Regions from separate parts of the Homo sapiens genome. Here region 1 is linked to region 2. Evidence: fine-mapped expression QTL. Tissue or cell type: whole blood. Region 2 holds a variant in brackets; the other region holds the start of a gene. All regions are shown on one strand. Distances are from middle to middle.

Evidence for each region.
Region 1: it holds the start of GRAP2, and the variant in region 2 is fine-mapped to the expression of GRAP2 in whole blood (TOPMed, PIP above 0.99).

Annotation. Positions count from the first base shown.
Region 1 is chr22:39,891,503-39,907,979 of GRCh38, reverse strand. It overlaps GRAP2 (GRB2 related adaptor protein 2), which reads right to left and starts at 6,896. Exons shown (of 8, transcript NM_004810.4): 1 at 6,650-6,896. ENTHD1 (ENTH domain containing 1) reads left to right here and starts at 14,220. Exons shown (of 7, transcript NM_152512.4): 1 at 14,220-14,285.
Region 2 is chr22:39,944,705-39,958,014 of GRCh38, reverse strand. GRAP2 (GRB2 related adaptor protein 2) reads right to left here. Exons shown (of 8, transcript NM_004810.4): 2 at 10,831-10,922; 3 at 2,105-2,196. The coding sequence starts at 10,908. Among named protein-coding and RNA genes, the nearest start is that of TMA7B, 9.0 kb to the left of the region's middle. RefSeq lists enhancers at 765-824, 6,195-6,364, 7,129-7,368 and a silencer at 6,035-6,094. The variant T/A (reference allele first, on the strand shown) is at 6,203.

The DNA.
Region 1 (16,477 bases), 52 kb after region 2:
CAGAATCCTGTGTTTGGACCAGTGTTGTGGAAGGGGCCCAGCCTACAGCGTGACAGGCTTGGTGCTACGTCCCGGCAGACATTAGCAAATTACCTTGAGCAAGTCCCGGAAACTCTCCAAGCCTTGCTTTTCCCACTCTGCAGAATGAGAGGTAAAATCTGTGGTCTGTCTACCTCAAAGATCATAGCCAGATCAAACAAGATAATGGCAACTCTTTTTATTTACTTATTTATTTTTTGAGACAGGATCTCACTCTGTTGCCCAGGCTGGAGTGTAGCGGTGTGAACACGGCTTACTGCAGCCTTGATCTCTTGGGCTCAAGGGATCCTCCTGCCTCAGCCTCTGGAGTAACTTGGACTACAGGTGCGGGCCACTGGGCCTGGCTAATTTTTTAAAAGAATATCTTGTAGAGATGGGGCCTCACCATGTTGCCCAGGCTGGTCTCAATCTCCTGCGCTCAAGCAATCCTCCCACCTTGTCCTCCCAAAGTCAATGAGCCTGTACGACAACTCTTTTTAAAGCTCCATCAGGATCAGTGTACAATAACTCTAGAGAAAGACAATTTTTCCTATTCAGGATATATGGGTGGACACCAGGTGATTTATGATGGATGGACACCAGAATTTCCCACGGAAATTCTGTACAAAGTTGCGTAGGATAAGTGCTAGGCATCGTTGGTTTTTTTTCCCCATTGGGGAGAGTTTTCATAGTTTTCGTTGACATCTTGAATGTGTCTGTGACACTCCCCTTCCCCCACCCACCCCACCACTGCCAGTAAGAACCTATGTGCTATGGATATCAGCGTATTTATGGTCAACTTAAAGTACTGATATAAGGTATTAGATTTAGACAATTTTCTTAGTTGTCTCAATGTTTGGTTGAGATTCTCCTGTTATTCTTACCGATTTAATGATCTATATTTTCAAACAAATCTATTTAGCGGAGGAGAGCCTTTTCAGCTATCAGACTTTACATTTTGTTTTATAAAGGGTTAAACTGTGTGACCTATAAAATGATGAAGAGAAATTTCAAATTACAAGTCAGCCAGGCTTTCCACCCCACTTTGTACTTCCCTTGTAATATTTCCTAGTTATTTAGAAAGAGTTTCTTTAAAATCATATTTAACAAGAGAACTATCTACTTATTATTTACTGAGTTCCTACTGAGTTCTCAGCAGTTTGTTTCTAATATTTTCCCATAAAGCACTAGACAAAAAACACAAATCATGAACCATTTGTAGGCCGACACATTAAGCCCGTGGTTCTAGAAGGCTGGGGGGTGTGGAGAAAAACAAACGAAGAAGTATTATTCATGACCAATTGATCAATTAGGCTGCTTTTCATTAAAAAACATAAAAAGGCAGAACCAATTTGGCAATGACTGTGTTGGAAATGCAAAAAGAACCATTATTAATGCTGGATTTTTTTTTTCTTATTTATTTTTAGTTCTCTTTAGAAAATTACACTTGAGAGCTTTCTGTAATGGCCACTGAAGGAGTGGATAAGATTCAACTCAGCAGTCGAACCCTTTTGTAATGCTAATGAAGGAGCATGGACCAACACCTAGTTTATACAGCTTTTTCTCAATACAGTTTCAGAAGCCACAGGCTGACTTATGGAATATCTGAGTGTATGAGATAACCAACCAGGGAATTTACCTACTAACAACAGTCATCCATCGTCTCTTAAGGAAATCCACCATGGCCTTTTATAAATCTGACAATGGCTTATACTCTTGCGTTTTATGGTAAAATCTTATATAGTACAGAAATGTGAAAAATGAGAGGAAATTTCTCCCTCCTGATTATATCAAAATATCATCTTCCACCCCGAGGCTCTGAGGTCCCAGGTCTCATAACTCCCCGCTTGTATTGTTCCTTTCAGGGATTTTTTCCCCCCATTACTTCATAGTTCTCCTACTCTTTTCTGTTCCAAGTATTTTATGTTCAAGGTTTCTTGTACAGAGCCTTAAGCTATGTAAATGTAATAAGAGTACTTATCTGGGCTTAGTGGAATGCTGTTCTTATTCAGATGAATTAAACCTTAAATGTGTTTGGGTGGCAACCTCCCGGATTTTCAATAACTTCAAGTCTGAGTGTGTGTGAGGGCTACTTCCACTCAGCTCCACTTGTATCACTCCTCACTGCATGTGCCCATCATCAGAGAGAGTGCTCAGGAACCAGACAGCCTGGGTTCAAATCCTGGCTCCACCAGGTACTAGTTAAGTGACCTTGTGCAACGTACTAGACCTCTCCGTACCTCAGTTTCCTCATTGTGAAAAAAGGGTATTATTAGCACTTTCTTCATTGCACCATTAGAAGAAGTAGACGAGTTAGTACCTACAAAGTATTAGAACAATGCTTGGCAAATAACAATAATAACAGGCACTGTTTTAGGAACCTTAAATGTATAAATCGTTTACTCTTCAGAACAATCCCACGAGATAGGCACCATTAGTAATCCCATTTTATAGCTTAAGAAACTGAAGCACAAAAAGAATAACTCGTCCCAGTTCATTCGCTTAGTAAGTGAAAGACTGGGCTCACACCGAGGCTGTCTTGGCTCCACAGCAAGCACTCAATAAACATTACCTACTATTATTATTATTACCTGAACTTATGCACTCAATAAATATTTCCAGCCACTATTGCTGCTGATAATGATGAATTTGCATGTCGAGTCCATCTTCAAAGCGTATTAAAAATATATATGAACTCCAATGAAATAATCAATTTAGGCAAAGATTATTACCTAAAGTCACCGGGTGAGAGTTTGTTGGGAAATAGGATATTGCCACCATGCCAAAGTGTTTATGAGATACACTTTGAGATACCCCCTGAGAGTACTCGCTAATTGCAAAGGGTGAAAAAGTGCCTGTACAACAAGAGATCCTCTGAGCAAGATCACTACCTCAAGCCCTGATCAAACTTGGCATCATGCACAGTGGAACAACCTGGCATTCTGTACCTCCTGATAAGATGCAATATGGAGCACCCAGTGGCACCTTGCAAAAAACGTTCAATCAAAATCAAATCATGCTTTTAGTCCTAACTTGGAGCTTATGAGAAATAAAGTGGGTAGAGGAACAAATTAACCATGAGGCAACAACGAATTCAGAAAGTGGGACCTGGTACAAGAGAACTGGCGTAATCTTTAAAAACATCCAATGTTGAAGAAAGAAGCATGAGACCCAACTGCAAAATATGTTCTTATTTTTAAAAATTAGATTCTTTTTTTAAAAAATGGTATAGAAGACATTTGGGGGACAAATGGGGAAGGTTAAATCTGCACTAGCTATCAGATGATATTAAGGACTTACTGTTTATCCTCTTAGGCCTAATGATGGAATTGTGGTTAGATAGAGGAATGCCTTTATTCTTAGATGAGTACTGAATTATTTAGGAGTGAAGTATTATTTTATCTGCAACTTACAAGTAATTCAGAAAGAAATAGGTATAGATGGAGCAAATACGGCAAAGAGTTAGCAATTGTTGAACCTAGGTAGTGAGTACTAATATTTCAACTTTTCTTTATGTTTTATGTTCAGTTATTTTCTCACTATCTTTTCTTTTCTTTTCTTTTTTCCTCTTTTTGAGACAGGATCTTGCTCTGTCGACCAGGCTGGAGTGCAGTGGCACGATCTCAGCTCGCTGAAACATCTGCCTCCCGGGTTCAAGCAATTCTCGTGCCTCAGTCTCCCAAGTAGCTGGGATTACAGGCGCCTGCCATCATGCCCGGCTAATTTTTGTATTTTGGTAGAGACAGGGTTTCAACATGTTGGCCAGGCTTGTCTCCAACTCCTGACCTCAGATGATCTGCCTGCTTTGGCCGCCCAAGTGCTGGGATTACAGGTGTGAGCCACTGTGCCCGGCTGTTCTTCACTATCTCCTTAAGGTATGTCTTAACATTTTCTTTGGAGAGTATATAAGACTTTTATCATCATGCACTTCGTGATAGTTTCTTTTAATTCTCTAAAATTTTTGTTTATAAATACATATTTAAAAAGAAAACAATCTTTAAAAATTATTTACTGAATTCCTACTGACTCAAGTTTATTGAAACTTAATGTTAACACTGTTGAAGAGGACTTGGTGCCTAGTGCCAGGCCTGGCATATAGTAATTGATCGATAAATGTTTGTAAAATGCTTATTTGTTAAACAGGACCATGCTTTCTTAAGAATTTTTAAGAGAAAAGAAAGGGCAGGCCAGGTGTAGTGGTTCACACCTGTAATCCCAACACTTTGGGAGGCTGAGGCAGGCGAATCGCTTGAGTTCAGGAGTTCAAGACCAGCCTGGGAAACATGGCAAAACCCTGTCTCTACTAAAAATACAATATTAGCCAGGTGTGGTGGTGTGTACCTGTAGTCTCAGCTACTTGAGAGGCTGAGGTGGGAGGATCACTAAACCCAGGGTAGTTGAGGCTGCAGTGAGCTGTGATTGTGCCACTGTACTCCAGCCTGAGTGACAGAGTGAGACCCTGTCTCAAAAAAAAAAAAAAAAAAAAGACTCATGAGGCTGTGTTATTATCATTATTATTATTTATTTTTGGAGATCTGCCCACCTCGGCCTCCCAAAGTGCTAGGATTATAAGCATGAGCCACCGCGCCCAGCCAAGGCTGTGCTATTTCTTTACAGACCAAGGTATGCTGGGCAAATACCTCAAATGGACAAAATGGGGACCTAGCGACCCTATTGTTTGATTCAAACAACTTATAAAGATTCTTTAACAAGTTTTGAGTTTGTTTGATAGGGGCACAAAAATGAATCATCTGCCCCCAGGATTATCCAGCAGCAACTGTTACTTATTTAAGAAATCGTGATGGAATCACACTTACTGACACATTTTCGAACAATTGCAGACTTTTCTTGACCCAGGAAAAAAGGGCAAGTTCTACTCAAGCTTAGGCATGAACCCTGTCAGTCATCAACACCAGTGGGTGTTATTATCTGGGAATCAATAAATATGTTGGAACTAGGATCATTTTCAGCTCTTCTAGGAAGCAATAGTTCTAAAAGAGATGGCTTCAGGAAATAAGTGAGAGACATTTTGTATAAGAAGTGGGAAGAAAATGATCAAGAGTCAAAGAAACAACTAATCATGATATCGCCTTGCATTTTTATAGAGCCTTTTTCCTAAGGCACTTCATATCTATGTTAACTCATTTATTCTTACAACATCCCTACGAGGTAGACAGAACAATTGAAAGGGATTTTCACCAGGGCCTAAGATGTGGGAGATATTCAAAAGGATATTGTATTAGCAACAGAGATATTTCTTCATATTGAATAGATTGATCATCTCCTTCTCCTCTGCTTCAGTAAAGTCATTTTTAAAAAGATAAAATCTATTACAATTTGGGGAGAATAAGATTTCAGTTTACCACATGGGAGACACTCCAAGTTCAATCTAAAAAAGCAGTTTTATTCAATAATATAGGGCCACCTCTCTTTTACAAAAAAACAAAAAAGGGTATGAGTCAGATTTTTTTCGTATTTGAAAATTAAATATACTTAGGTGGTCCTCTATTTACACAGTGTTCCTTATTTAATAGCAGATGGTTTTGTAAAGAGAATCACTATAAAATTATTCTATAAAGTTTTACATAAAATACTGGATTGTTAAAGGAGAGTAACTTCTGCTAAATACTCTTTCCGAAACCAAAAATAAGAAACAAAAAGGAGCCACTAAAGAACTAAACCGTTTATGACAAACATTGCTGCATAGAACAAAAGATTCTGCGACCTGAAGTTTCCCATCCTCAGATAACATAACGAGAACACACGAAATTTTTCCCATTGGATGTTTAGATCTAAAACACTTCCCACTCCTAGTTTATCTAGGGATGTGTATGTTCAATAGTGTGCAAATTATGCTGCATACACTTTATTAAGAAGGCCTAATTCCAGGTAGATAAATACGGTAAATTTTTTTTGACAGTATACCTGTCAGGGCAATACAGTACATTTTAAATTAGTGAAACCTTTGGTTGGTATGTTCAATCCTCACGTTCAGGAAGAGTTGGGACAAAGAACACAAAGCAGCTATCTTCAGACTGGACGCCTAAACCAGAGACAGTCATAGGGATGGAGCCTAACGGCTAGTACGAAGAGAGACAATACCCTTCCAAAATACACTTCAACATAAAGTTTTCTTTTCGTAAAGGAATGAAAACTGGTGTCCTTTGTACAGGTAACAAAAATGCGAACAGAACTAGAAATTCAAGCAAAGAGAGAAATCCTGACCTCAGAGTGCTAGTGTTCATTCATCACTGCTCAGCCCTCTACCACCCCCTCCAATCCCTTCCAATTTGGATTAAATTCTGACCATGGTGAAGTGGAATTTTACCTCCATGATCCCAAGGTCGAAAATCTTTCCCTGAGATGCTTCTGAAGCCAGTTTGTGGAGATTTTTGTGTTATGGACTGGGTAAGGAACAAGTGTTCTCCCAGTTCATTTGATAGAAGTCAAATCCCATCACCACAAACATTGTCACAGCAAAAGGTTTAGAGACCTTAGCTGATGGGACTTAAAAGCAATATTTAGAGAACTAGTGAGATTCATTTTAATTAACTCATACAGAACATTCTGCAAATTATAAAACTGTTCAAAGTTTCTAGAGTATATGTACAGATGTTGTATAATGACATACCTTTTGGAAGAGAAGGGGTTGAGTTTATGTCTTGGCTTTGACACCGAGTTATTAGAATCCTTTCTGGCAAGAAGGGAGACAAATTCAAGCATCAGAGTTACTGCATTTCAGAGTATGGATCCACTTTGTGCTGTCTTCCATGTACCACTCTGAAAGAGGGTGCAAGTTTACAGATCCATTAACTGTGCCTCCTCCTCCCCACCTCTTACTCCCTCCTCCAAACTAACCCTAGTCAGCCCTGCAGTCTGTAGGCAAACCACACAGGAACTAGCACATATGGGGCTTCGGAGAGTTGGGCGTGAGCCTTAGATTATGTGGTTTTGTTTTCTTGCTGCCAGAGTTGAACTAAAATGCAGGAGGTTCACTGAAACACTTTTGCTTCTTTATGCTTGGTTTCAGTTTTAACAATATCCCCCCTGAACACTTGTGTTCACATAAGAAAATTTATAGTTCTTGATATGGTCCATCAGCAAGCTGATCTTAAGGAAAACTCTTATTCTCTTAGTATAATCATGCATCCAGAGGAACATTAGGGCTTCTTGGGGGAACTTATTTAAGAGCACCCTCGATCACTCACAATGTTAAAATCCCAGGAAAGATGCTTTGTTCATACACTCAGCCTCTAATATTACTCTTGACAAAAAAAGAAGAAACATTCTGAGCTGGGATGCATTCTCACCCCAGGTTTGCCACAGTCCAGCATGAGGTGGAACCAGTTCCTTCAATTTCTGGGACTTCAATTTCTGTTGAGTCTTAGACTGAAGGCTTTCTGGGATTTAAGACTTTCCATTGACCTTGAGTTTTGTTACCTTCAACTTCCTTAGTTCTTACCTTTAAATGTACCACTCACCCTTCCCCCTATATCAACTGCAACTTGTGAAGGCCTCTTCCTTTCTCTTTGCTCTTGCTAGAAAATGGATTGCCAACGTTGCATCTTTTACAGAAAATTAGAGACATTGCTACTTGCTAAGTGGCACCATTCAGAGTTTGGGGACTGGATCCAAGATGAGGAGGGAAATGTTGGCTCACTGGGATGTTCCTAGCATTAATCCCTGGAATACCAAGAGGAGAGTGTCAAGGAGAGATTCAATTTGGGGTTCTAAAATTTAAACTTTTTCTGCAATGTGAAACGGCATCCTTTTCCATCTCTTTGCTTCTTTATATCTAAACCTTGCTTAAAATTTACTTTCTTAAAACCTTTTCCTTGGTTATAATTGCCCAACATTTTTATTGAAATAGAAAAGAAGAATCAGCAAAGTGTCAAGGTGACAGAAAATGCTCAGTAAATATTTGTCGAATGAGTTAAAGGAAGTAATTTTCTATCCATAACTCCTTTTTTTTTTTGAGACGGAGTTTCACTCTTCTTGCCCAGGCTGGAGTGCAATGGCATGATCTTGGCTCACTGCAACCTCCGTCTCCCGAGTACAAGTGATTCTCTTGCTTCAGCCTCCCAAGTAGCTGGGATTACAGGTACCTGCCACCATGCCTGGCTAATTTTTTTTGTATTTTTAGTAGAGATGGGGTTTCACCATGTCGGCCAGGCTGGTCTTGAACTCCTGAACTCAGATGATCCGCCCGCCTCAACCTCCCAAAGTGCTGGGATTACAGGCATGAGCCACCGCACCCGGCCCTGTAGCTCCTTAATAACAGGCTTTCTTTTTATTAATGCAACTTTGTCAAATTTTCTTAAATCCTGGTTATATCTGAAAAGGATCTCTGCTATTTCCACATTATAAAGATAAAATTTAAAAATAACAACATCTTGCTACTTTAAAAATAATAACGTCTCAACCTTGACCTCAGAATTATTCAGCCTTCTAAGGACCTTCTTGGATCATTACACTGAACAGCTCTATTGCCAAGTTTTTAAATGCTGAAATCCTCTGGCTACAGTCCTTATTCTTTGATAGCTCCCAAGTCGATGGTTTTGAAATGGTTAAAGGAGTCCCTAAAATTCTATGGTTGGGGAGTGGGAGCGAAGGGAAAATGTTGAATGGTGTTACATGGAAAGTATCATGGTGTTTTCAGCTTGTACCCTAATGAGGAAGCTAATTTTGCACCAGGCACTACTCCCCAGGGAGCAGAATATAATCCTTCCCCTTACAAGCATGGGACAGATTGCAGAACAGAAAAATCTCAAAGGCAAGTTATTTTGGTAGTAAGTACTGATTGACAGACATGTTATGTAGAGCATAGTGGGAGGGAAGCAAGGCCACTTGAGTGGTTTATTTCATAACAGCTCTGTAACTGAACGAGTGCAAAGGCAGATCCTAAGAATAAAGACCCTAATGTGAGAATGCCAGCATTTCAGTACTCACTATCATGAGATACTCAGAAAAATAGCAGCAAGATGAGGAGGATACAGTAACATGTGAAATATGGACTTAGCCACAGTGGAGAAGTTTCTTTTTTAAACCATACTTTGTTTAAAATTTTTTTAATCAATTCCTTTTGAGGGGTCATTTGTTTATATCTGAACTTCTGTTTTGTTTTGTTTTTTGTTTTATTTTGTTTTTTGGAGACTGAGTCTCGCTCGGTTGCCCAGGCTAGAGTACAGTGACGCAATCTTGGCTCACTGCAACCTCCACCTCCTAAGTTCAAATGATTCTCCTGCCTCAGCCTCCCGAGTAGCTGGGATTGCAGGCACCTGCCACCACACCCAGCTAATTTGTATATTTTTAGGACAGCTGAGGTTTCGCCATGTTGGTCAGGCTGGTCTCGAACTCCTGACCTCAGGTGATCTGCCCACCTTGGCCCCCCAAAGTGCTGGGATTACAGGCATGAGCCACTGCGCCTGGCCAATATCTGAACTTCTTGCCATAATTATGCTCAATTTAACTTTATGGTAAAATATGTACTTCTTATTTAATAGTGTGCATTCAGACATTCTCGTTTCATTTATTCAATAAATAAAGTTTGAACACCTACTCTGTGTTAGTCCTGTTCTAGGTGCTGGAAAACTATCAGTGAACAAAACATAATCTCTGCCCTCCTGGATCTTACATTCTGGTAAAGGGAGAAACAGAAGGTACATCAGATGGTCCTACTGTTAGGGAGAAAAATAAAATGATGCAAGAGCCACAGGGAGTGTGGCTGAGATGGGGGTTGCGATTTTACGTTGGGAAATCAAAGGACATTTGAGCAAAGTCTAGAACAAAGTGAAGAAGCCAGTACTTCCTGGATGGACATCTGGGGAAATAGCTTTTGCAGGTATAGGGACTAGCAAGTGCAAAGACTTCAGGTGGAGACATGTTTAACACTGTGAGTGAGGTGGAGAGGAGTTGGGATGGAGATCAGAGAGAGAGCAGAACATGTAGGGCCTTGTTGCCATGGCGAGGCCTTTGGATTTTACTCTGAGTGAGATGGAAGCCAATGGAAGATTTTGAACTGGGGAGTAGTATGATCTGACTTGGGTTTTAAGTTTTAAAAGGGTAGCTCTGGCTGTTGTGCTGAAATTAGATAGCAAGGGAGCAAGAACAGAAGAAGAGAGACCAGTTAGGAGCCTACTGTTGGCCAGGCATGGTTGGCTCATGCCTGTAATCCCAGCACTTTGGGAGACTGAGGCGGATGGATCACCTGAGGTCGGGAGTTTGAGACCATCCTGATCAACATGGAGAAACCCAATTTCTACTAAAAATACAAAATTAGCCAGGCATGGTGGCGCATGCCTGTAATCCCAGCTACTAGGGAGGCTGAGGCAGAAGAATCGCTTGAACCCGGGAGGCGGAGGTTGCAGTGAGCCGAGATTGCGCCATTGCACTCCAGCCTGGGCAATAAGAGCAAAACTCCATCTCAAAAAAAAAAAAAAAAAAAAAGAGGCTACTTTCATAGTCCAGACCAGAGATGGTTGTGGCTTAAAACAGGATGATGTGAGTGGTGGGAAGTGGTTGGATTTTGAATATACAGGGTGATCATAAAGTCTAGAAACATAGATAATGTTATTGTATCTTGTATTAGAATGTAGCATCAATAAATCATTTATTATCTAGACTGGGTAGCCACCTTGTATTTCAAAGGTAAGCTCATGGATATCATGAGAGCTATAAGAGACAAACACAGGAGTTAAGGTGACTCCCAGGTTCATGGCCTGAGAACCTAGAAGCAAGGATGTGTCATTTACTGAGACAGGAGAGACCGTGGGAGAGAAGGTTTGGAAGGCAAGACCAGGAGTAGAGGTCAAGGTAGTTAGATACACGAGTTTGGAGGTCAGGAGAAGCTGAAGAGAAAACCTTGAGAGTTGTCAGAATCGAAGAGTATTTACCGCTTTGCAAGTGGATAACACTACCTGTGGAGTGAATATAGATAGAGAAGACAAGAGGTTAGAGAATGGGCTCCTTCAAAGTTGAGAGGTCATAGAATTGAGAACGGATGAGTCAAGGAGATGAGAAGGAGAAATGGTGTCCGGGAAGTCAGGTGAAGCAAACTGTGTTCACTTTTATAGAACCTCAAGTTCAAAAAATTAAAGGAGAAAACCAACCAAGCTACCATAGAGCAATATTTGTATTTAGTGGATGTTACGGTATTGCAACTAAATTGTGCCCCCAAATGGAGGAAAGCAGATAAGAAGGACCCCTTACATATTGTCACTTGAACAGGGTTAATTCCACTAAGCTGGTAACACTTGACACTTTTGCCAAGCCTAACCAACTCCCTCACTGTTTATTGGGACTTCAGTCTTTAATCTTACCCTGTCTCCTACTTCCCATCTGCCTCCTCAATCACCTTCTATATGCTGACTACTCTGAAGTCTATGAACCTAGCCCCAAACCCTCTTCTTTCAGTTATCTCTATTCAACTGTCCCCTGAACATCTCCCACCTGTTGCTCAGATTCAAAATGTCCGAAGCAGAATTCCCCAGCTTTCCTGCCAAACTGACCCCTCGGATCATGTTCATCTTGGTGAACAGCAACAGTCATTTACTTGGTCACCCCAAAAAGAAACTTAGTCCCTGTAGACTCCTCCTTCTCTCTCATTGCCACATATATTCAGAGCCCGATCCCATAACTGCTACACTTTAACATTACATGTAAAAGTATATGTGTGAGGAGAGTGAACAGAGTGGAGATTCACACTATGCCCATGACCTCTGCCTTAGTTATGGCCTTCATCACTTATTGCCTGAACTATCAGAACATTCTGTTCTTCTTCCAGTTCCTCTGCTTCCAATCTACTCTTTGAGCACACACAGAGATTTTAAAAGGAGAAAATGAATGAATTTAAAAATAAAAAATTGGAATCTCTGACCTTCTCCAAACATAACAAGTCCACTTGTGACTGAGTTGCTGATAGAGCTTAAAATCAAGGACCAAAGATTGGTCCTTGGAGTAGGGGAAAGAGCTAGACACAGGAGATTTGGGTTCAAGTTTCAGGTAAACTGCTTCCTAGTTAAATATCTCTGGGCAATTACTGTAATCTATTTGTTTCTCCAAACTCAGTTTAAGCTCACCTCCTCCAGGAAGCCTTCCCTGACTATGCAAATATAGACAAGTCCCCCTTTCACTCCCGTAACATTGTTTGCCTTTATTATAGCAACTACTTACAATTGCTGATTTATTCCTGTTTCCTCTATTAGAGTATTAAACTACAACTTCCTTCTAGTCTCATAGCTCAGCATAGTGCTTGGCAAATAGCAGGTGCTCAATAATGTAGAATGTATGCATATTCCACAAACTCAGCTTTCTCACCTGTACAATGGGATAATAACGCCTACTTCTCAGCATTCCTTTGAGATTTACATAAGCTATACATATAAAAAAACTTCATAAACTATACCTCAATGTATAAAATACTTGTAGTTTGTCCCCCACTATTTTATAAAGTCAAAATACCTCAACATAGCATTCAAGGCCCTGAACAATGTTTTCCAGGTCACCTTTTCGATTTCCCTCTGGCTCCCACCCCATTACTCTATATTATAGCCAGTCAAATAATATTCCAAACTCACCAACTTCTTTCATACCTCCTATCATTTTATATTGGATTCACCTATCTACATGTCAGTATCAATAATGTGGGCTATTATTATTATAATTATGACTGAAGTAGTAGGAGATAGAAACAAATGTTGCTTTTGTCTACTAAGTGTTTTGTTATCCTCTGTCTTTTCCCCTCATCCTAGTCAATATTCCATTAAAACACAGGTTCGATTACATTTTTCAATGCCTACTGGATAAAATCACCTTGTAGTATGGATAAGGTTCTTCATGATCCAACTTCCCTCTGTTATTTAACCTTCCTCTGCTGCTCCACTAATAGCCTTTGTGACAGTTGTAGTAACTACAGTACATGTAGTTTTTCCAAGATAATAGGCTGGCTCAGCTTTCATGCCTTTACACATGATGTGTCCTTTGCCTCTTACGTCCTCCTCTACTTTGTCTATCCAGTGAACTCCCTGTCATCCTTTAAGATTCAATTCAGATGTAAACTCTTCTGTGAAACCTGCCCTTAAATACTCAGTGGCAGAATTAGATGATCTCTTCTCTCTTACTATGCCATACATATCTTGTTACAATCTTCTCTGACGGTGCCTGTCACCTCCACTAGCCTGTAAACGTATCCAGCAGAGGGCTGCTTTTTATCTCCGAGTCCTTACTGTCTGGCACAAAGTGGGTGCTCACGGAAAATCAGTTGAATACATCAACAATTACCCGTCAGTGGCACCTGAAGCCATCAGTCACTGGAGCTACCCCATCATTGTCCATCACACACACTGCTCTTCATAGACTACTATTACATTCTCAGTCCTTTGAGGTGGCAATCACGTGCTGGTGGTATTTCTAGTCAGTTGAAATGACAGTAGTAACACACTTTTAAAAATGTATTCATGTGCCATGCTGGTGCGCTGCACCCACTAACTCGTCATCTAGCATTAGGTATATCTCCCAATGCTATCCCTCCCCCCTCCCCCCACCCCACAACAGTCCCCAGAGTGTGATGTTCCCCTTCCTGTGTCCATGTGTTCTCATTGTTCAATTCCCACCTATGAGTGAGAATATGCGGTGTTTGGTTTTTTGTTCTTGCGATAGTTTACTGAGAATGATGATTTCCAATTTCATCCATGTCCTTAAAACTTAAATAATAATAAATAAAAAAAAAGAGATATTATGCTAGAAGTCTGAGTATTTTACTGATTTTCCATTTTAAGAATAAATTATCATGGCAAATTTTAAGTTACATACATTATTTTATTGTCTACTTTTTAAAAACATTATCAGCTTACCTTGGCATTTTTTTTCTTTTTTTAATGTCCGTTTTTACGTTGTGAACATTTAGTAAATTAATTTATACTCATTTTTATTTAATTAAGAAAGCAGCTAAGAATAAATGCTAGTGTCTGATTAAACTATTTCCCAGATCTCAAAAAAAAAAAAAAATTTATTCTTTGAAAGGAGGATTAGGGCAGTGTCACAGCCCGGCAGCCTGTGAAACGAAGACACTTACCTTCATTCCCCTTGGTACCCTCCAGCTCAGGTATCTGCAACCATCTTGCTTGACGCCCTGACAGGAACTGCACCAGGCCAGAAAGTGAGGAAGCGGAAGTGGGGACCGGCCTGGGCCCTTGAGCCTGGCTGGAGTAGGTGGAATATCCTGGGGAGAGGAAGTTTGGTCGTTGGGCAGCGGCCGACTTTCCTCTCAGGTAACAGCCTCTGCTTGGGAGTGGTGGTGGGGCTCAAGGCGGGTCTGGAAACATCGGTTGCCTTCCCTCCTCCCGTTTCTTGCCGGCACCGTCGGAGTCCAGGTGGGGGCGGGAGGGCGGCGAGGCCATTACCATCCGCAGGAGGTGAAATCCCTGTGGCGTGACGTGACGCCATCACGTCCCTCTCTCCTTCTAGAGGCTTTCCTGAGGTCCAGCCTTCCCCTCCACTGCCGGTTCTCCTAGGGTAATTGCTGGTCTGATTCTCTGTGTGGCCGAACGCCCAGCACCTGGCTCATCTGGTACACAGTCGTCATCTGAAGTGGGGGTTGTATGAATGAAGACGAGGATGCCGAGGAAAGGCCCTGCCCACAGAAAGTTGATTCTTGCTCAGCCTCCACCCGCCATTTTCAAAATTCTTTCCAAAGCATCTCGTTTCTTCCTCCCCCACGGCCCTGTCTGGCGATTATTCTTTGTGTTGCGGATGAGGGAACTGAGACTTAGAGAAGTTGTTAAGTCTTAGTTAGGAAATGGCAAAGCAGGACCTCAAATCATGGCTTTGAATCCTAATTAAAGGAGAGAGATGAGGCATGTGAAGGCCCAGGTGTGAGCACATTGTGAGCGTTCAATGAAGAGTAGCTGTTTACTCCAGGGTGTGAGGACTGTGTCTTGTGCACCTGTTTCTCCATTTCCTAGAATGGAGCCTGCCACATGGTAAGCTCTGGAAGATTATTAGTTGAATAAATTAATGAACACACACTTAGGGCTGGAAAAGATTAGATTCTCTGCCTCTGACAGTATTCTTTTCATCAAAACAGTAACACCTCCTAATGGCATGGTAGTCTCTATAACCATTTTCCCGTAGCATTCTTGGCCAGAGCTCATTTCCTTACGAGTCAAACTCATGTCTATAGGCAGAACCTGTACAAACACAAGAGCTGTTCTTTTCTCATAGTTCCACCTTAAATGCATCTTTTCAGAGATAGCTCTGGACACTCAGCCTCTTAGATGCTATTGTCATTATTGTCCCAAGTCTTTGGATAAAGTCAGTTCAGCTCCTCTGTTCCTTATTCTCAATCCTGAAATCCAAAAACTTTTGGAAATCAACTTTTCCTCCAACTCATTTGGTGGTAAAACTTGGCCTGAGGCCATTTGTAGTCTTTATTCCAAATATTTACATGTTTTTATTGCAGACATGTTAATGTGTTTAATTGTTCAGAGCAGCTCCACACCTTACTGTGGGTATCATGTAATATATGGTATAGACATGGCACTACTCTTGAAAATTCCACCCCTACCACCGCACCCAAAAGAGAATTTCCACAAATCATCTGGCCTCAAAGGATTGGGATAAAAGATCGTGGACCAATAGTTTAATGCCAGCTGATAAATCATTTCCTGTTAGAATTCAGATGAAATGGGGGGAAGGAAACAGCATTGTGAAAGTGGGCAGATCTAAAAATAACACTAAAAGACCTTTTCTACGTAATCATTTGTTTTGCTGGGAATTATTTAGGAGAGAAAGCTCCTTAACTGAATGGTAAGTTTTAATGTGAGGTTCATGTTTTATATTTCTCCACAAAGCTATACAAATGGTAGGTACTCAAGAAATATCTGTTGATGATTTGAAAATATTTGCTCAAAACTATAGAATTTTACTTGACAATTATGAGAGCTAGATTTTATTTATTTATTTTTTTAATATCATGCTTTATAGGAGTTTGTGACCATCTGGGCAACCAATAAGAACTCGTGTCTAAAAAAAAAATTTTTTTTGAGGCCAAGCACGGTGGCTCACACCTGTAATCCCAGCACTCTGGGAGGCCGAGGCAGGCGGATCACTTGAGGTCAGGAGTTCAAGACCACCCTGGTCAATATGGTGAAACCCCGTCTCTACTAAAAATACAAAAAATTAGCTGGGCTTGGTGGCTCATGGCTGCAGTCCCAGCTACTTGGGAGGCTGAGGCAGGAGAATTGCTTGAACCTGGGAGGTGGAGGTTGCAATGAGCCAAGATCGTGCCACTTCACTCCAGCCTGGGTGACAGAGCAAGACCCTATCTCAAAAAAAAAAATAAAATTTTTTTTTTAATTAGTTAGGCTTGGTGGTATGCACCTGTAGTCCCAGCTACTTGGGAGGCTGAGGCAGGGGGATTGCTTGAGCCCAGGAGTTTGCAAGCAGCCTGGGCTACATAGTG
Region 2 (13,310 bases):
GATGGAGTGGCAAGTGGAAGGGGATTTGGGATTAAGAATTTTCTTGATTTATTTATTTATTTAAATTTTTTTTTTCTTTGAAACAGAGTCTCTCTCTGCTGCCCAGGCTGGAGTGCAGTGATATAATCATGGTCCACCACAGCCTTGAACTCCCAGGCTCAAGCGATCCTCCTGCCTCAGCCTCCCAAGCAGCTGGGACTATAGGCGCATGCCACCACGACCAGCTAATTTTTAAAAATTTTTTGTAGAGATGGGGCTCGCTATGTTGCCCAGGCTGGTCTCAAACTCCTAGCCACAAGTGATCCTCCTCCCTCAGCCTCTCAAAGGACTGGGATTACAGGCATCAGCCACAACAAAACCCACCTGGCCTCTGGGTTTGGTTTTGTTTGTTTGTGTTTTGGTAAGTTGGGAGAAATTGCAGCGTGTGTGTTTGCTGACAGGAATGATCCAGCAGAGAGGGAAAGGAGGTTGACGTGGAAGAGAGAGAGAGGAGAATTTCTGCTAGAAGCAGTGACAGTTCCTTCCAGCCAGCTGCAGGAAAGGCCGACTGTTTGAGCACACTTGCAGGAGGCAGGTGGATGCGGTGGGGGAGGGGGGTCTGGGAGCTTCACTTCTGGTGGCTTTCATTGTTCCAGAGAACCTGGAATCAAGGTCACGGGCTAAGAGTGATGCACGGAGGGGCTGAAGGTTTGAGGAGCACGTGGGGTATGCAGAGGTCACCTAGCAGATTCCTGGGCAGCATCAAGGGTTCCGTCAAGGTCAGTGGTCATTCTCTTGGTTTGGTGGTCAGTTCAGGTTTACCAAGACTGGTGCTCTTGCACCTTGCTGGAGTCACCAATACTACTGTGGTTTTCTAACAAGCTTTTGCTCTTTGAGCTAGACCCTGGTTCTGAGGCAAGATTAGATTTCTATCTAACCCTTGTGGTCAATTCTTGAGACAAACGAAGCCCAATCTCAATTTTTCATTTCCTCTTTAGGAAGAGAATTTCCCCTTCCCCCCGCTGACTTCTCTCATTGGGGTGAGCATGCTTTACTGAAGGCAGGGAGTGTCTGTCCACCCACTGAGTGAAGGGTGAGAGCCTGGTGAGGATGGTTAGGATTAGGAGGTCACAGAGAAGCGCTTAGGAGAGCAGCTCCCGAAGTGGGGTGGCCAATAGCGTCCCCTTTGGAATTCTGGGGAACGCCGTGATTGAAATCACTATAGATAATTTGAGTTTACAAACTCATTTTATAAAAACTTAAAATAGGCCGGGTGCAGTGGCTCACACCTGTAATCCCAGCACTTTGGGAGGCCGAGGCGGGTGGATCACCTGAGGTCAAGAGTTTGAGACCAGCCTGTCCATCATGGTGAAACCCCATCTCTACTAAAAATACAAAAGTTAGCTGGGTGTGGTGGCATGCACCTGTAATCCCAGCTACTAGGGAGGCTGAGGCAGGAGAATTGCAATGAGCCGAGATCATGCCACTGCACTCCAGCCTGGGCAACAGAGCAAGGTTCTGTCTCAAAACAAATAAACACATGAATAAAAAAACCCAAAAAAACCCAAAACTTAAAATAGGCCAGGCATGGTGGTTCACGCCTGTAATCCCAGCACTTTGGGAGGCTGAGGCGGCAGATCACTTGAGGTCAGGAGTTTGGGACCAGCCTGGCCAACATGGTAAAACCCTGTCTCTACTAAAAATACAAAAACTAGCCTGGCGTGGTGGCATGTGCCTGTAATCCCAGCTACTTGGGAGGCTGAGGTGAGAGGATGGCTTGAGCCCAGGAGTTTTAGGCTGCAGTGAGTGGTGATGGAGTCACCGCACTCCAGCCTGGGTGACAGAGGGAGACCCCAACTCCCAAAAAAAAAAAAAAAAAGTTAAGAACAACTTAAAATAGCAATACATGCACATGGTGTAAACATCAAAAGGGAATGAAATGAAATGCAAAGTCTCCCTCCTGCCCTGGCCTTCAGCTGCATGCTCTGGAGGCTCTCCGGAGAGAGCTCCAGAGGCAGCCATTTTTGACAATGTCTTGGGTTCCCATGGATAACTGTAGTGACTGCTGGAAATGTAAGAGGAGTGTGTGTGGCTAGGCCCATCTCAGCAGGCTGCAGATACTTACTTGGGAAACTGGATGTCTATGAAATTCTTGGGCACATATCCTTCCTGGCTCCCAAGCTCCGCCTTAAACCACTCCTCTTGGTTACTTAAAATCTACATGGAAGAAAAGGAAAGACAAAGACATTGGAGGGAGGACACCAAAAAAACAAGAGAAAGGGGCTGCCAGGCAAAGAAGGCCCTTTTGGACTTAGAGGAAAATATGTTAATAAGTTGAAAGAACTCAACAGCTGTTCTAGGATTTACCCCAGGCCTGTGGAGGAGCCGTGGGTTTACCTTTGGAGTCAGCTTCTCCTGACCCCAGGTTATTTCTGTCCACTTGTGCCGTCCACTCATGTCACCCCACTGTGGCTTGGCCTCCCAAATTCAGCACTCAAGGACTTCCCTGAATCCCTTTTTCTATTTTGGAAATTCATTTGTCCCAGTTAGCACCTTAAGTTCCTCATCTCAGCAGATGGTGAGAAGGAAGAATGGTTACTCCACGGTGTATTTTTTTTTTTCTCTTCCAGGTAACCAGGAAACTTTTCTCTTTTTTTTGTTGTTGTTTTTCGTTTTTTTGAGACAGAGTCTTGCTCTGTCGCCAGGCTGGAGTGCAGTGGCGGGATCTCAGCTCACTGCAACCTCCACCTCCTGGGTTCAAGCGATCCCCCTGCCTCAGCCTCCTGAGTAGCTGGGATTACAGGCATGCGCCACTACACCTGGCTAATTTTTCATATTTTTAGGAGAGACGGGGTTTTACCATATTGGCCGGGACTGTCTTGATCCTTTGACCTAGTGATCCACCTGCCTTGGCCTCCCAAAGTGCTGGGATTACAGGCGTGAGCCACCAGGCCCAGGAAACTTTTCAAAAATTCAATTTGTTATTGTTTTTTAAACAGGCAGATTAAAACTTAAACATCCCAGTGGGGCCAGCTTTGGAAACAGTAACTCTTTGTGTTCACATGCTGTGTATTTCACAGATATTTGGCTGGAACCCAAGATACTTGGGATGCCTTTTCTAAACTTGCTTTTAAAGCCAGATCCCAAACAAAACCAAAAGTTCTGTCTTGTTACTCTGTGGCCTGACTTTGACTGTGACCCCAAATGTTATTGTCTACCTCAGTTACTCATATTACTCACCAGACTTGACTGTATGTGGCTTCTGGTTTCTCAAAAAATGAGATTCACCATTAAAAGACAAAATATTTGACACCGCCACTGAGAATGTTTTGAAAGTCTGAGGCCAGGTGTGGTGGCTCGCGCCTGTAATCCCAGCACTTTGAGAGGCCAAGGCACATAGATCACTTGAGGCCAGGAGTTCGAGACCAGCCTGTCCATCATGGTGAAATGCCATCTCTACTAAAAATACAAAAAGGAGCCGGGCCTGGTGGCACATGCCTGTAATCCCAGCTACTCGGGAGGCTGAGGCAGGAGAATTGCTTGAACCCAGGAGGCAAGGTTGCAGTGAACCGTGATCTTGCCACTGGACTCCAGCCTGGGCAACAGAGCAAGCCTCTCTCAAAAAAAAAATTTTTTTTAAGTCTTTGATATAGACTAGAACAATAATTCTAAATAAGGATAGCAGAGCAAAAGATGGAAAGAACTCTGATAATGTCACTGAACCGCTGAATTAGATGATACCCAGGAGCCTTCCTACTTCTGGACTTTGAGAAATTACAAGTCTTTGTTATTGTTTAAGCCATTTTTAGTTTATGTTTCTTGCTCCTGAAAATATCTTAACTGATAGAAGTGTGATGATAAAGAAGAAAGCAGAAATAGATAGAAAAGGCATCCATATGTAGAGGAGAGACCACTTGCCTTGGCAACGAAAGGAGTTACTGAGGCCAAGTCAGATGGCAATGGACTTCCTCCTTCAGCTCTGAGGAGGTGTGGTGTGTTCTGGGAATGAAATGCCTCCAGGTGGCTGGAATGTAGACTGTGAATATCTTGAAATGTAGGGGGAGCCCTTAAAGGATTTTGAGCAGGGAAGTAACAGTAAGAATTAGAGTTCAGAAAGAGCTCTGGCTGGGTGCGATGGCTCATGCCTGTAATCCCAGCACTTTGGGAGGCCCAAGTGGACGATCGCTTGAGCCCAGGAGTTTGAGACCAGCCTGGGCAACAAAGCGAGACCTTGTCTCTATGAAAATAAAAATAAAACTTAGCAAGGCGTGGTGGAAGCGCACCTGTAGTCCCAGCTACTCAGGAGGCTGAAGCGGGAGGAGGGTGTGAGCCCAGGAGTTAAAGGCTGTAGTGAGCTCTGATTGTACCACTGTACTACAGCCTGGACAACAGAGAGAGACTCTGTCTCTAATTAAGAGAGAGCGAGAGAGCGACAGAGCTCTGTATCAGAGATCAGAATGTGAAGATAGATTGCAAGGCTAAAGTCGGCAGAAAAACTGCAGGAAGATGAGCGCAGGCCTCCAGTCAAGAGATGATAGGGCCTAGGCTAAGAGGAGGTGAGGATATATTTTAGAGAAATTCAGGAAGCAAACAGGCAGGATTTCTTGACCAATCTTGGAAGCTAAGGGAGAGGAGGACTCTGGGATGCCACTGGATTTCTGGCTTGGGAGACTGAGTAGGTGGTGACGGCTTTACAGAAATAGAAGATACATGAGAGGAGGCAGGGCTGAGAAAGGGCTCATGGGCTTCAGATTGCATGCGGGTGACTGTGAGTTGAATTCTTCAACTAAGAAGAAAAGCTCAGGGAGCAGCTGGATATGTCAGTCTGGACCCAGGAGAGAGGCTAAGGTTGGGGCTTGGGGTTTCAGAGTCATCAGAAAGTGGGTGGAGTTGAAGTCACAGGGCCCTTGGGCTTCTTTCTCCCAGAAAAGAAGATGGGAAGATAATGGAAAGAACTAAGTGCTTGAGTGGAGATGATGACCTATTTCTAACATCACTCCAAGGTGGAAGGAAGGGGACAGTGTTGTGAGTTGGGAACGAGAAGACCTGGTTTCTAGCTTGGCTCCATCACTAGATATGTGATCTTGGCCAAGTCAATCAGCCATTTGAAAAATGGAGATAATAATAGCCACCTAGCACCTCACAGAGCTGATGTGAGGATCAAATGAGCCCTGGTACCTGAAAGTCCTTCAGAAAGTGTAGACTCTTTTCAAAAAATACAATTCCATCAAATGTGGTATTCTTATGAGGGAGGCCTCCAGCTCTGAATAGGACATGGAAGGGTTTATACGTTCTTTAAAGCATTATGTGTGTATGTTTTGAATTTAGTCATTTATTCTGAAGGAATAAAAGTGTGTCCCATATTTGAGTTTGAGATTGCTGAGAACAGAAAACTTTATAGTTTCTAACATCAAATGTGACTGCTGGTGTCACTAAGGACATGTGGGTATGTGTGTGCTGAGGGGGCAAGGGAGGAAGCAGAAAATCTAGGTCAAAAGAACTAGGAAACCCAGCAGCAGCGCCTCGTAGCCACGTAAAAACACAAGAGCACACTGCACTCCATCCATCGCTTCTGAATTCATGGCATTGGAATTCCTTTCTCCCGTCACATGGGAATGTGGTGTTTGGCCAGGGTAGCAAATGTCACACAGAAAGGGGTAAAAGAGGCCATTTGGAAACTACCTTGTCACCGTAAGAACCACACGTTGAGGCCGGGTGCCATGGCTCACGCTTATAATCCCAGCACTTTGGGAGGCTGAGGCGGGTGGATCACCTAAGGTCAGGAGTTTGAGACCAGCCTGGCCAACATGGCAAAACCTGATCTCTACCATAAAGACAAAAATTAGCCAGGCATGGTGGTGCATGCCTGTAATCTCAGCTACTTGGGAGGCTGAGCCACGAGAATTGCTTGAACCCAGGAGGCGGAGGTTGCAGTGAGCCGAGATTGCGCCATTGCACTCCAGCCTGGGCAACAGAGCAAGACTCTGTCTCAAAAAGAAAAAAAAAAAAAAAAAAACCACACACTTTGTACTTCATTTTCTGACCTGAAAGCAGCTCTGTAATTTTAGTTATCATGCCTCAGACCTCCTCTAGAAACTGAAAGATTATCCCACAATGCCAGCCATTTCTCTCCGCCACCTGGTGCTTGGTCTGCCTAACACTGTGTTTCTAGAGAGGTGAATTTGCAGGCTCTTTACCATGTATAGAAGGTGAGGTTTTTTTT[T/A]AAAAAAAATTCTCATTTTCTGCAAAGAAAAGTATTTGAGGGGAGGGGAGATGGTTTCCTCCTGCCGTTGTGGGCCCAGGGCCCCACACTTCCTGTTCTTCTCATCTCTCCATCTGTTCGGTTCCCCCTATCTCGTGTACCCATCGTGTAAACCTGAGCAAGGCGTTCAGCCTGAACACTTGAAGTTTTACTCTTGACTGTTTCTTAATTCTTATAATGTTCCCTAAGAGATGATTTTTTGGGTTACATGGCCTGTGAATAAGTTAGACGTGGGAAGAGAAGGGCCAAATTACGGCTGGAAGAATTTTTAAATTGGATGAAATTGTAGCTTTTAGAAACATAGCAAAAATCTGAAGTATTGAAGAAATGAATTATGTGGAATTAACTCTTAGTGCTTTTAGGTTGCTATTTTAGCAGGAAGAAATGAGGTCGCATTAGCTGCATTACAGAAGGAGACAGAAATGGACTGGGTCAAGAGATATTTTTCAAAGCTACTGGCAAATTTAATGGCAAATTCAAATGTGAGGCTGGTGCTGTGTGTAGCTGCAGGTATGGTGGTTTGTGGCATGAATAGGAAAAAAATCTGATTCCTGAGTTTCCAAATGTTTCCGTCATAGGAGAAGCAGGATCAAGTCATTTGGCAGCGTTTTCCTGTCCACCATCTTGATCTACATGCCGTGTAGATCACCATCTAGTGAGCACCTGCTGATTGCACTTAGGTGCATGAAATATGGAGATAAATAAGCTGGGGCCTCTGCCCCAGGAAACTGATGGTCTGTTGAGGGTGGGTGGCTGCTCAGACTTTTTTGTACCTTTCTAATGAAAACCTCTGTTTAGTCTTTAGCACAAAAGGCCAAACAAGTCAGAGAATCCCAGAAGCGAATTGCTGGGGTAGTCAGGAGCTGGCTTTGAAAGTATTTGTGAGGATCCTGGGTGTGTTACCCATTGAGGAAGGTGGGGGGCAGACATTGCAATCACATGTGGGGAGTCCCAGCCATGGGAACCAATCACCATCCTGTAGACATTCTGTGGGGCTCAGTCAACAAGCCCTCCCCATTTTGCTCTTTACCTGCAATGGACAGAATTTGAAAAGAGGGAGGGGGTTGGCTTTCCAATGGAATTCTAAATGAACAGGAAGAAATGCAATTTAGCAATTCAAGAAATATGTACTGGGCATCTATTTTGGGCCATGACTTGTGTTAGATGCTGTGAAGACACAAAGACGAACCTGGCATTGTGTGCACACGTGCATGACATTGCTCTCAGGGAATGGAGAGGAATTGAAAGTTCATTCATTCGTCAAGTGTCAGGGAGTTCTAGGCACAGCTCTTCTAGACATTGAGGCAGAAACAGCCCCTGCCCTTGCACAGCTTTTGCTAGTGGAGTAGACAACACATAAACGAGCAATTAGGATCCCACGGGGCAAAGGCAGCAATGAGAGGTAGAAATAGAGGGTGCATGAGACCACAGGGTCATGGCCTGCCTATAAATAGCTGCCATGTGAGGCAAAGTCATAAGTGCCTGGAAATGAGTGAAGTTTATGTGAAATGTTGGGGAGGAGCTGAAGAGGGAGTGATTTGTTTCCCTGGGATGGTAGGGAGTGGAGAGGACCAGCGAGGTTTCCATGGTAGAGGAGGTCAAGTATGTGTGTGTAGGAGAGGGGCAATCAGAGTATATAGGGGAGAGGCTGAGAAAGGGCGGTGTATACATTGCAGTGCAACCTGGGGGCGTTACATCTACAAAGATGTCTCTGTGTGGGTGTGTGCACACATGTGTACATGTGCATAATGACACTGGACAGTGGTTTGGGGCCAGATGTTTTCAGTCTCAATCAATTGGTAATTGGAAACCCCTGAATGCTTTTGAGCAAGGAAATGATATGATCTGATTTGTCTGGAAAGATCCCTCTGGGACTAGTAAGAAGAATGAGTGAAGGAGGAAAAAGACAAGAGGTAATGAGGTCAGTCAAGGAGCTGTGGCAATGATCTGAGCAGTCAGAAGCAGCGGGGATGGATGATCCCGATAATGCGGGCCACCATTTATTGGGCGTCTACGTTGGGACAGGGTCATCACCTCGAATCCTCTCCACAACCCGGCAAGATGGATACTACCTCCACTTGCTGAGGAAGACACTAAAGCTCAAAGGGGGCAGATGACTGGGCCCCAGTCTCCATGGTTAGTAAGCTGGGATTCAAACTCAGATCCATCTGACTCAAAGTCTATGCTCCTTTTTACTGCCTCACACTCCTTTCTGGTGAAGAAGAGACTTGCTTGAGAGATATGAGGAAAAAAATACATTCAGAGCAGAGTTTAGTGCTTAGGAGTCAGACAGAGTTCTGTCCAGGTCCTGGATTGGTCACATGCTAGCTGTGTGACTGTGGACATGTGATTTAATCCCTAGCCTCAGTTTCTCATCTATGAAATGGAGGGGAAATGAATGCCTACCTCACAGGTTTGCTGAGATGATGAAATCATGCCTGCAAACCACTTAGCTAGATCCTGGCCCTGAACAGGAGCTCAGGAGACGTTGGTTACTGGTCACCAGGATTTGGTAAAGGAGGCATTGATGATAATTGGGGCTTCTAGCTTGTGACTGACCTAGGATAATAATTAGAACATGGAAAGAAGAGTGGCTTGGGTGGAAATGGGGGTGAGATGGGCATGGGGGTTTGAGTGATTCTCGGCATCCTGAGTTAGGGGCTGGAGTTCATGTGGGGACATCCAGCAGACAATTGGAAGTCTGGGTCTGGAGTTCAAGAGCAAGGCCAGAGCTAGAACACGAGCCACAGACTTGAGGGTCTTTGGCACAGAGGTGATAGTTGCAGCTGAAGAAGTGGATGAGGTGGCTCAGAGTGAGAAGAAAAATCAGAAAGCCAAAGGCAGCACCTTCAGGGAAGTGTATATTTCAGGATCAAGAGAGGAAAAAGAATGCTTGGAAATGAGACCTGTAGGAGTGGTCAGGAAGGGAGGAGAAGAACCCGGAGAGGGTGGTGCTGCCAAAGCCAGGGAGAAAGGGGCTTCCAGGAGAGGGCCAGTTAGCAGTGTCAATCCCACAGACATTTCCATAGGGTCATTATACTACACATTAAGGAGATCACTGGTGAACTTCAAGAGAATGTTGCAGGGAGGGTAAAAGGCAGATTCCAGAGAGTTGTGGAATGAGTGGGAAGTGAGGAAGTGAAGCACGCCCAGTGTAGAGAATTCTTCCCAGTATTAGCAACAAAGGGGAGGAAAGAAATCAGGAGCTGGATTGGGAAGCAGAGTTGAGCAAAGTTTTTTTTTTTTTTCTTTCCTTTTTCCTTTTCTGAGGAATAGAGAAAACTTAAGATACCAGGTTCTCTTTGTAATGGAAGACGAGGGTGGAAGTTGGTACAAGGATGGTCTCCAGTGGATGACAGTCACATGATCACAGTGCCCCACAGAGAAGGCAGGAACTTCTCGCTGCTTGGCAAGTCCCTCCAGGAGCTTCGTAAGACCCCAAAGCAGTGACAGACAGGTTTTCCTGGGTCAGGAGGCCCAACTCATATTTTAAGTTTGTGAAGGCCTATGCTTTGCCACTATGTTACTAGATCTTGAAAGTTGAGAGCAGTTAGAAGGCTACCTAATGGGCATGTTCATATTCCAAAAGAAGCCATTCTGTGGTGTTTTGTGCTCCTCAGACACTTTCAATGTCACCCTCTCACATGCTGACAAGGTTCTTTGTATAACAAACCTAATTCTCGGTGGTGAGACACTAATGGCCTCAGTGTTGCTGGGCGTCCGAGAAGGCTCATTGGGACTGCTGAGGACCAGGGATCAGGCTATCTGAGGACCAGGGATCAGGCTATCTGAGGACCAGGGATCAGGCTATCTGAGGGTGCTCTGAGGTCAGGCAGAGGGGGTCTGGCTCCACACACTCCCAAATGCCCTTTTGAAGGGCTTATGCTCTTTTGCAAACAAACAAAACAAAACAAAAACCCAAGGGCTAAGATGCAGAGTCTGAAAGTATGGTGCATGAATGTGGGAGAAGTCCAAGGCCACTTCAGCTCAGCAAGTGGCCACTACAACTCAAGTGCAGGATGAGGACAAGCTTTAAAAAGCCCCTGAGTGGCCAGGTGTGCATGGCCTTTGTTGAGCCATGTCCTCTGTGGCTGCCTTTCCCAAGCTGTCTCCACCCACAACCTCTCCTCCTGAGTTCCAGCTCTGCTGAGCCTGGCGCTGCTCCCTGCATTCAGCATGGGCTTGCACATCTCTGAGCTTTAGCTAAAAGCCCAAGTCACCTTCAGTGCATTCCTGACGTTCACATTGCACACACTCCTACAACCCCCATCTTTCAAGATGGAATCACTTGTTCCCTCACCTGTGCTCCCTGAGAACTTAGCCAAGAACATCTGTAACAGCCCTTTGGGTGGATGTGTTCCCCTCTCCAGACTACGAACCTCCCAGGACAAGGATGGTGGCTTATGCCGACTGTATTTCCATCACCCGGCCTGGTTGGTGTCTGGTATAAGGGTGCACAAAGGGAATCAAGGTGAACTTCTCTTTTTAAAAGGAACCACATGCAGTTCTTAAGAGACAAAGGCAGGGACTGTCAGATTACTGAGTAACTGAAACTCCCTACTGCTCCCCTGGGGCCCCAGGTCACCTACCTTCAAAACATCTCCAGTGTGAAAGCTCAGTTCATCCTCACCTGAAGCAGTGAAATCAAACTTGGCAACAGCTTCCATGCTGTAACGTGAAGCTGGAAGAGAAATAATGTGGTCATTGTGCCTCTCTGCCAGGGGGAGGGCAGCAGAGCCGATGGTGCTTCCTGGTAATCAGCAGTTCCTAGGAGAGTGGGCAGATGGATGTCTCCAGGCCGGAGAGCAAGGCTCAGGCACACAACAAGGGCTTGTGTTTGCAGGAAGAGCTGCCGGAATCTATAGGATCTAGGTCCTGGGATCATTCTCGGAATCCCCAGATGCCAGGAGCAGGAAATGAAGGCCATCCGCAGCCTTTCCCTTCTCCTTTCATCATCCTGGCCTGACACCACTTTTGGGGGCATCTCTGTTTGCAGCTGATAAGGAGGGAAGGCTTGCTATCATCTGTAACTTGAGGCCTGAGGGGCTGGAAAGACTATTCTGTAAACACTGTCCCAAGGCTGTCCCTTGGCAGCTATATTTAACCAGGCAGTGTTAATTAGACGGATGCCATTTCCTCTTTTACATCTGAATCATTTAAGAGAATTAGACAGCATTGGCCAGTGGGGAACTCAGCTTCCTTCTGCATGGTTTGGGAGTAGAAAGAAGTTCTTGGTCTTCGAGTTGGGAGGCTCAATTGGTCAGATTACTTATTTTATGATATATTATAAACCAAGTACATTTTGGGAATTTTGATTTTAACATTTTTGAATTGAGTTAAAATAGTGGCCCCCTTCTTGTAATGCATGAGACCCATGTAAAGATAAATGAGTCGGCCTATGTAATACATTTAGTATGAACTAGAGCTGTGCTTTAGGAGGCAGCGGGGATGTAATGGTAAGACAGCTGGCTCCAATCCCAGTTTTGTTGGTAGATAGCTGTAGACTCTTGGGCAAGTAATTAAACCCTTGGAGTCTCCATTTCCTCATCTATAAAATGGTGATCATAATATTCAATTAATAAAGTTGCAAGGTTAAATCAAATTATAGATGCAGGCCGGGCGCTGTGGCTCATGCCTGTAATCCCAGCACTTTGGGAGGTCGAGGCGGGCAGATCACCTGAGGTCAGGAGTTCAAGACCATCCTGGCCAACATGGCAAAACCCTGTCTCTACTAAAAATACAAAAATTAGCTGGGTGCCGTGGCACGTGCCTGTAATCCCAGCTACTTGGGAGGCTGAGGCAGGATAATCGCTTGAACCTGGGAGGCAGAGGTTGCAGTGAGCCAAGATCATGCCACTGTACTCCAGCCTGGGTGACAGAGCAAGACTCTGTCTCAAAAACAAAACAAAACAAAAAAATTATAGATGCAAAGTATTACACCAGATAAAGCTAAATAGTATTTACGTTTTAAAATAATTTTATGGAATGAATTTTTCCCCAGCAAAGGTAGCCTGACCAAAATCAGCACAAGTTTTCTTTCCTCACTCCATCTCCTATGAACTTTTCTCATTGAAATTTGAGAACTAATCTCCATGACTATCAAATCCTGTGATTCTCTGCTAAGACAGCTTAACTGTCAGGACAATCTTGAAAGCTGTTATTTTCTTGTTGATCAAAATTTCCCTAAGTTTCAAACCCTTTAGGGTAGAAAATAAATACTCTCCAACCTAATAGACTTTCAGCGACCAGTCAACTGGGACCACATTTGTCCTCTCAGTGGGAATTCCTACCCAAGTTAACAAGATTTGGGTAAATAAGGAAGGTGGCTGCCAGTGAGAGGGTGAAACGCCAGGAGATCAGAGGATTAAAGCCGACTGCAACAGGGTGATAGCAAGGGGCTCATTTCTCTGATTCTCCACAATTGTTCAATCTTTCGAAGGTAATTTATAGAGATGACTATTACCCATTCAAAGGTAGATGTTAAGCAAAAAATAGACCAGGAGCCAAAGTAAAATGTCACAGTTAACTCTTTGAGTCAAAACGTACTCCCAAACAACACCATCACAAATATACTTTTTGTACACTTTCTTCAAGATCCATCTATCGAAGGCAAATTAAAATTGTTGTGACCTAGGACGACCCACTCAACAGGAAGGAGTATTCTGCCCTCCTAAGTTAATGCTAAATGCCTTTGCTGATTTGATTCACCCCATCATTTTAACACACAAGGCTTCTTCTAATTAAGGCCTTGCCTCTAGTTTGCAGAGAGACATGACTTCTGTGGGTCATCCTCATGGTATCAACAGTAGACAGTGGTCGCCTCGTGGGATCAAGTGTCAGGTGAATGGTCCTGAAGACCAAGGTCCCATTTGTATGCAAATTCACCTTAATAAGCAGGATGGAGACAAGGGAAGGGCAAATGCTAAACATATTAGAAAGTTACATAAATTAGAAATGAAAAAATATCCCAGGCAAGCTCTAGATAAGACCTTGATTTGGGGAAGATCTTTCCAACATGACATGTAACTCAGCTCAGGCTTGGGCACTGGGTCCAGGCTGGCTGTAAATC